2 linked regions of the Homo sapiens genome follow. The protein of the gene in region 1 purifies or fractionates together with the protein of each later gene. This does not show direct contact. Each region holds a gene or a part of one and is shown in the gene's direction. Other genes may lie near its edges.

What was found. Proteins that work in one complex are often made in the same cells at the same time.
Region 2: the proteins of SEC23A (region 1) and TTC1 fractionate together in Homo sapiens (co-fractionation; 2 studies listed by BioGRID). This does not show direct contact.

Annotation. Positions count from the first base shown.
Region 1 is NC_000014.9:39,040,588-39,044,337, reverse strand, and holds part of SEC23A (protein transport protein Sec23A), read left to right. Parts: intron 1-1,465; coding exon 1,466-1,552; intron 1,553-3,450; coding exon 3,451-3,606; intron 3,607-3,750.
Region 2 is NC_000005.10:160,061,040-160,064,789, forward strand, and holds part of TTC1 (tetratricopeptide repeat protein 1), read left to right. Parts: intron 1-2,502; exon of another isoform or gene 2,503-2,617; coding exon of another isoform or gene 2,618-2,634; intron 2,635-3,750.

The DNA of each region.
Region 1 (3,750 bases):
TGTATTCTTTGAATCAGGAATGTTTTAGAAGTAACTTTTTTTTCTTCTGAGTAATAACGTGCATGTAGACATCTGAAAAATGTAGAATGGTGTTTAGAAGAAAATTGGAATCCCACTGTCCCTAGTGCCTGCTCCTATTAAATTTCAACCTTTTCATTTAATCCATGAATCCTATCAGCTTCATGTTCTTAGGGTTTTGCTTTTGGAGTTATCTTCTTTCTGTTCTATATAATTACTTTCTGTCCATCTGGATCATTCTTATTAATTAACATAGAAACCATAACAACAGTCAGGTTTATAACAAACGGCCAAAACACCCCCACCATGACCCACGCTTTCTCTAACTGCCACCCCATTTCTCTGCTCCTGGTGAGAGTTGAACTCAAAAAAGTTATTTGTTGTTTATACTTTCTCACCTCACATTGTCTTCTCAACCTATATAAGTAAGACTTTTGTCCCTAACATTATATTGAAATGGCTCTTATAAAGACCACCAATGTCCTACATCTCACCAGAGCTCTCAACAGTATTTACCTAGTCTTCACTAGTACTCAGCCCTTGAAAACCTTTTGCCCTAGGCTTCTGTGACACCTATACCTTCCTGGTTTTCCTCTTACTCACTCACCGTTCTTTCTCAGTCTTTTGCTAGCTTTTCCCTTTCAGACCTCTAAGTGTTGACATGCTTAAGGGATCAATCTTCTGGCTTTCCCTGTCTTCCCTCTCAGTGATGTAGTCTAATCCCATTGCTTTAATCTTTGTGCTTTAATCTTTGTGCATGTGACACCTAGATTTATGTCATCAGTTCAGACCACTCCCTTTCATTTCATATGCAGAACTATTTTCCCATGTGCTCCAAATTTGCTCTATCCCAGGCCTTTCCCCATTTAGGCTTAGGAGTTATCCTTGAATTCTTCTTGACTTTACTCTATTTTTAAATTGTTTGTTACCTCAGCTTAAAGGGATTCCTTAAAAAATTAAAATACACTATAAGAATTCATAATAGCAAGAGATTTTAGGTAATAAAATATAAATTTCAAATTTAGGCCATCATGGCCTAAGTTTCAAATTTAGTGCTGAGCCTGTAATCTCAGCCTTTGGGAGGCTAAGGCAGGAGGATCACTTCAGCCCAGGAATTTGAGACCAGCCTAGGAAGCATAGTGAGACCCCATCTCTACAAACAAAAAAATGAAAAAACTAGCTGGACATGGTGTTACACACCTGTAGTCCCAGCTACTTGGGGGTCTGAGTTGGGAGGATTGCTGAAGCCTGGGAGTTTGAGGCTGCAGTGAGCTGAGATCATGCCACTGCACACCAGCCTAGGTGACAGAGCAAGACCCTTCTCCAAAAAAATAAATAAATAAATAAATAAAAGAAACTTGGAAAATAACCTGGAAACATCTATTTTATATTATTGAGTAGATTATTTTTCCTTTTTCCTCATTTCTCATTGTTTTCTTTACGTTAGCCGGTTCTTCTTGATAGCAGTAGCATTCTTGCAGATCGTATTCTTCTCATGGACACATTCTTCCAGATTTTGATTTATCATGGTGAGGTAAGATTTCAATAGCATTTAAAGCTATGCATGTAAAGTCTTTTTACTTAGAAAGGTTTTCTTACTTCTAATTGTATGGCTAGTGTTTCATCTATGATAAACTTTGATTTCCATTTTTATAAAATAATAAAATATGATGCTGCCTACTATAAGGTTTTAGGCTTCAATTGCAGTTGACCCACATGTGATTATTTTATTCATTTGTCACACAATTGGATTTTGCGCAAAGCACAGTGTTGTGAAAGTAAGAACACTGACTGTACATAGACAAATGGCACTTTTGGGTTTTACCTGAAAACATTAAGGGGGGAAAAGTCAGCCTTTGTCAGTGGGCAGGCTTTCCTTTTACGTTATGCAATCATTATAAGTTATTATTAAGTGTTCTACATGATCTTGAAAACTCATTTAAAGCATACATGAATTAAAATTTGTAACTTCATTGGAATGGTAAATGATTACAGAGAGCAGAAGATTTTAGTAGCTATTAAGCTTTAATCCAGGTATTTAGCAGACCTTGATGCATTCCTGCAGTTACTCATTCAGCCAATTGTTAAGTGCTTCCTCTGGATGCTTTGGAAGATATAGATGTGTTCTTTTTTCACAGATCTGTTCTCAAACTTACAGTCTAGTGTTTTACTAAGTTCTGCAGATTTATTTTTTCAGTTGCTTTAATTGTAAATGATTTTAGATTTGCACTGTGACTGGGTGTGGTGGCTCACGCCTCTAATTCCAGCACTTTGGGAGGCCAAGGCAGGAGGATTACTTGAGCCCAGGAGTTCAGGACTAACCTGGGCATCATAGTGAGACCCTGTCTCTACAAAAAAATTTTTAGAAAAGATTTGTACTGTAATAGTAAAGACATTACTCAAAATATTCTTTGAAGTAGTACTACCCAGGACTTTTTTTTTTTTTTTTTTGAGACTCAGTCTTGCTCTTTCACCCAGGCTGGAGTGCAGTGGCGCTATCTTGGCTCACTGCAGCCTCTGCCTCCCGGGTTCCAGCGATTCTCCTGTCTCAGCCTTCTGGGTAGCTGGGATTACAGGCACATGCCACCACGCCCAGTTAATTTTTGCATTTTAGTAGAGACAGGTTTTCACCATGTTGGCCAGGCTGGTCTCGAACTCCTGACCTCGGGTGATCCGCCCGTGTTGGCTTCCCGAAGTGCTGGGATTATAGGCGTGAGCCATCGCGCCCGACCTACCCAGGAGTTTTAAAAGATTTAATTATTATTATTGTAAATTATTTTTAATTGATACCAGTTTCTAATGCCCTTTACTTGTTAAGAATAATACCTGTTTTAACTTCTTGCCTTTGTTAAAAAAAAAAAAAAAACCTGTAATACTGACAGGGCTTTTTTTTTTTTTTTTTTTTTTTTTGCTTTTTCTTTGTTTTATGGTGATTTTTACTTTTTCAAGTAGCTTGTTAAAGGAGAAATCAGAAATGCACATGATTGTTTTATACAGAGGTATAAAGCTATAAAAGAATGTGTTGACTGATTCAGCTAACTTAGAAAATAAACCAGGCATAAGTTTTTAGATGATTTAATTACATGGTGTTTAGAGCTACTTACCTATGGATTGATTCAATTGCTTTCACGTATCATAAGCTTAGGTAGATAGCTTTTAGCTAACATTCATTTGATAAGCATAGTGTTTTAAAAATTTTCTGACTTATGTAAGTATTCTTTCATTTTACTTTTAAAGGAGAAGAAATATTCTAATTTTATATTTATTAAGAATATTTTCTCTACTGAAATTGTAACTTTTAAAAAATTGAGGTAAATGGAATAATGGTCTATAATTTTTTTAGTTTCTAAAGATTATTTTCTTTGGAAAAATCTCAAGATTTTTGGATGGGCAAGAAATTTAAAGTAATTTCTTTAATTGTTTTAAAATTAGACCATAGCACAGTGGCGGAAGTCAGGATACCAGGATATGCCTGAGTATGAAAATTTCCGCCACCTTCTGCAAGCCCCAGTGGATGATGCACAGGAAATTCTTCACTCCAGATTTCCAATGCCAAGATACATTGACACTGAACATGGAGGCAGCCAGGTAAGTAGTGTTAATTTGTTTGTGTGTTTGTTTGTTGTTAGGTTTGCAGTGAGGTGTACCTGCTTGCCTTCTGATTTTAATAGATTGCTTCATAAAGCAGACAGAAAGGTAAGGAGATAGGTGGGGAAGGTATCAGTGCTTACT
Region 2 (3,750 bases), on another chromosome or scaffold:
TCAAGCTGTCAGTGGCCTCCTGTGGCACGGGAACCGTAGGCTGACGGGCCTGGCTCAGGACAGCCTGGCAGGAGGCACCTGCCTGCCCCGCTTCAGCCCCATTGGACACACAGCTCGCCTGCCTATCTCTGTGCATTGGCTCACGCTGTTTGGGCTTGCACGGACAGCACCTCTGTCTCATATGGTTGCAGTCCTATGGCCTTTGGTGCCTGGTTCAAGTGTAAACTCTTAGACAAAGATAGACCAAATCTCTTCTTTCCTCCACCCCTTTCCTGTCTTCCTGCCCCAGCCAAAGGAATCTTCCCCTTCCTGACTCTCGTAGCATTTTATAACTCAGCTACATATGAATTTGGTTTTGTGTGTATGTCTTTTCTTCCTTGTCAAATTCTAAGCTTGTTTTGGTGTATAGACCATGTCATGTATCTTTGCATCTCTACCACACATAGCAAGGTGCCACACACATGTAATTAGTACATGTTGGTTGAATTAATCTATGTCAGGTGACCTTAGGTCTTCTCTAACGCAGAGACTATTTATTTGTGTGCCTTTTATTATGTGTCTACTACCTGCCAGGTATTATATATATGTAATCTCATTTAGAAAGCAGAATTTCGCATTTTCTTTTTTTTTTTCCCCCTTAAGTGATGGTCGGTGAAACTAATGTGAAATGTTATAAAGGCAGAGATACTGGAATTGAAGGAAAAAGAATAATTATCTATGTGTTAGTTTGGGTCATCCAAAAAACAGATGCCAAGATAGGATTAAAAGTACAAGAGATTTACTGGGGGAAACACCTGCAAGGGAAAATGGGGCTGGGAGCTGGAGGCTGTTGGCAGAGTTGGCAGACCCCTGTGGAGGAGGAAAGGCCGGGGGAGCGGGGAAGTTTTCCACTGGAGTGTGGTGCTGAGAAAGTTTCAGCAAAGCCATTGGGGAGCCAGTGCTGCCCCTCAGACGAGTCCCTCCCATGCTCAGGCATTGGCTGGAAGCAGCAGGTGGGAAGGGTGGCCTCTGCATGAATGTGCTGATGGATTTTAGAGTGCAGCCACTCTGTCCCCTGCATTTGGAGAAATACATCTTCATGACTGCCACACCATAGAATCAACCAAGCTAAAAGTTCAAAGGTGGCTTGTGGCACACAGGCCCTTTAGCCAGTTAGGCAAAACGAGGGCCTGGGAAAGAGAATTCTTCCTCTCGTCGGCAGTTTGAATATTTGCAGTCTTAGCTTGGAATGGTCTTTCTGCACTAGAGGGAAACCTCCTTTAGTGCAGACCAGCCTAAAGCCAAGCCATTGCTGCCTGAGGAAGCTGCCATCTCTGGAGCACGGTGACATGCCACCACCCTGGACCTATTCCCATCCCCCGGAGCACTGTGGCATGTAGCCTCTTCGTGCCACTGCAAGGTCAGAAAGCACCTCTGGGCACACCTCCGTCTTTTGGGTCTGCCTCCCCACTAGACTGAGCATTGTGCATAGAAGCTACTTTTATTCTTTACATCCCAGTGGCTTACATGATAGATGCCAAGTAAAATTTCCAGTTTGTACTTTAAATTGTTTTTCTGGCACTGGAGATGGGCTTGCAGTGATCCCTCCATCCATGTAATGGCCCTGGGCTCAGTGGACCATCCAGAGTAGGCTTCTCCACCATGGAGCTGCCCCTCCTCAGGAGTCTGATGTGAGTGGCTCTTGATACTCATTCTCACTTCACTCACTCCATATCACAAGAGCCAAGGATTTCCCAGTACCAACATTTTCTTGGGCTGCTTTTGATGGTTTTTTTTTTCCCCCTTCCTGTCCTCTTTTTCCAACCCCAGAACAAACTGCCAGCGTTCCTGGTTGGTGTTGCTAACTCAGGTCACCCTGAGGCTGCCCTGTCTTTCTCTTGCTTGTTGTGAGCCCCTCCCTCTACGCCCATGTGCCCGAGGCTGTGCCGCTGCCTTGTGCAGGCACCCAGGGTTTATGCCAGTGATTTCCTGACACAAGCAGCAGCACAGAACGTGTGTGTCCCAGGTTTAGGTTTGGGAGGCCTGCCTGGAGAACAGCCATCCCAGGTTCTGGGAGCTTTCTCAATTTACTGTTTTATCCAAAGATGGGTTGGCCTTTCTCTGGACATAGTGAGCTTCCTTGGGCTAGTTCTTAAGCCTGAGACTAAAAGTTCTCACCATGAGTTATTAGGGAGGCCTGTAAAATGTAAAGGCCATGCGTTTTTTTTGCTCTGTTACCCAGGCTGGAGTGCAATGGTATGATCATGGCTCACTGCAGCCCTGAACTCCTTGGGCTCAAGCAATCCTCCTAACTCAGCCTCTGCATAGCTGTGACAACAGGTGTGTGCCACCACACCTAGCTAATTTTTAAATTTTTGTAGATACAGGGTCTCCCTATGTTGCCCAGGCTGGTCTCAAACTCCTAGGCTCACATGATCCTCCTGCCTCAGCCTCCCAAAGTGCTGGGATTACAGGTGTGAGCCACTGCACCCAGCCAAGGCCATGCACCTTTAAGTTCTTTACCTGGGCTTTACTCTAAGATGGGAGGCCTCAGAGTGAGAAAAGCTGCTAAGAAGTGGGAAGGAGCCTGTACCTCTGGTGATTAGGGATTTCTCTTTTCGTCCACCCCCATTCTCACCTCCACTGGAAGTAGACCTGTAAGAAAAATTAAAGCAGTTTAGAAAGGGTTGAAACTGTTTATTCACCCATCCCTGCCAAAATTTTCTGGAACATTCCTAGTTTCAGATGTTCCTTATATCTTAAAACAGCATAAGAACTGTTTTTTGTTTTTAAAAAAAAAATTTGTAGAGATAGAGTCTCACTGCGTTGCTCGGGCTGGTCTTGAACTCCTGGGCTCAAACCCTCCTCTTGCCTCAGCTTCCCAAAGTGCTGGGAATACAGGCATGAGTCACCATGCTTGGCAAGAACCGCTGGCTATAGACCATGACTTTTTTTTTTTTTTTTTTTTGAGACGGAGTCTCACTCTGTCACCCAGGCTGGAGTGCAGTGGCGCAATCTCAGCTCACTGCAACCTCTGCCTCCCAGGTGCAAACGATTGTCCTGCCTCAGCCTCCCTAGTAGCTGGGACTGTAGGCGTATGCCACCACCCTCAGCTGATTTTTGTATTTTTTGTAGAGATAGGGTTTCATCATGTTGGCCAGGCTGGTCTCGAACTCCTGACCTCAGGTGATCCACCCATCTCGGCCTCCCAAAGTGCTGGGATTACAGGCGTGAGCCACCACGCCCATCCTATATACCTCACCCAAGTCGTGTAAATAAAGCCTGAAACTTGGGAAGAGGAGGCTGGACTATTGAGGTCTTATTGAGGTTGCTGTGCAAATCAAGATGATCCCATTTCTAAGAAATGGCTAGTCTGGTATAGAAGCTAAGGATTTGTTTAGGAAAGCAGGAAGCTCTTGAATATGAATCCAAGCTCAGTGGAAATGGGCTGAGTTGAATTACATTTAGCAGGTGGCTGCTGCCGTTCTAGAGAGAAGAGACTTGGAGGGACCTCTGCCCTCACTACCAGGCAGACCTGGCTTGGCAGGGTGCCTTGAGCCTCACTGGAACAGCAGTTGGTTTTCCCAGAACTCACCCCAGAAGCCTGTGTCCTCTGATAGCACTGGCCAGTTAGGACAGGAGGCTTTGATTCCCAGAGAGAGCCAGCAGGACTCCACTCTCATCTATGCAAGCACAGGCTGAGGGTGGATGGCATTAAAGTGACTGCACTGCTGAGTGGGGAATAGGGGCTGGGAACTCTCCTGGAAGCTT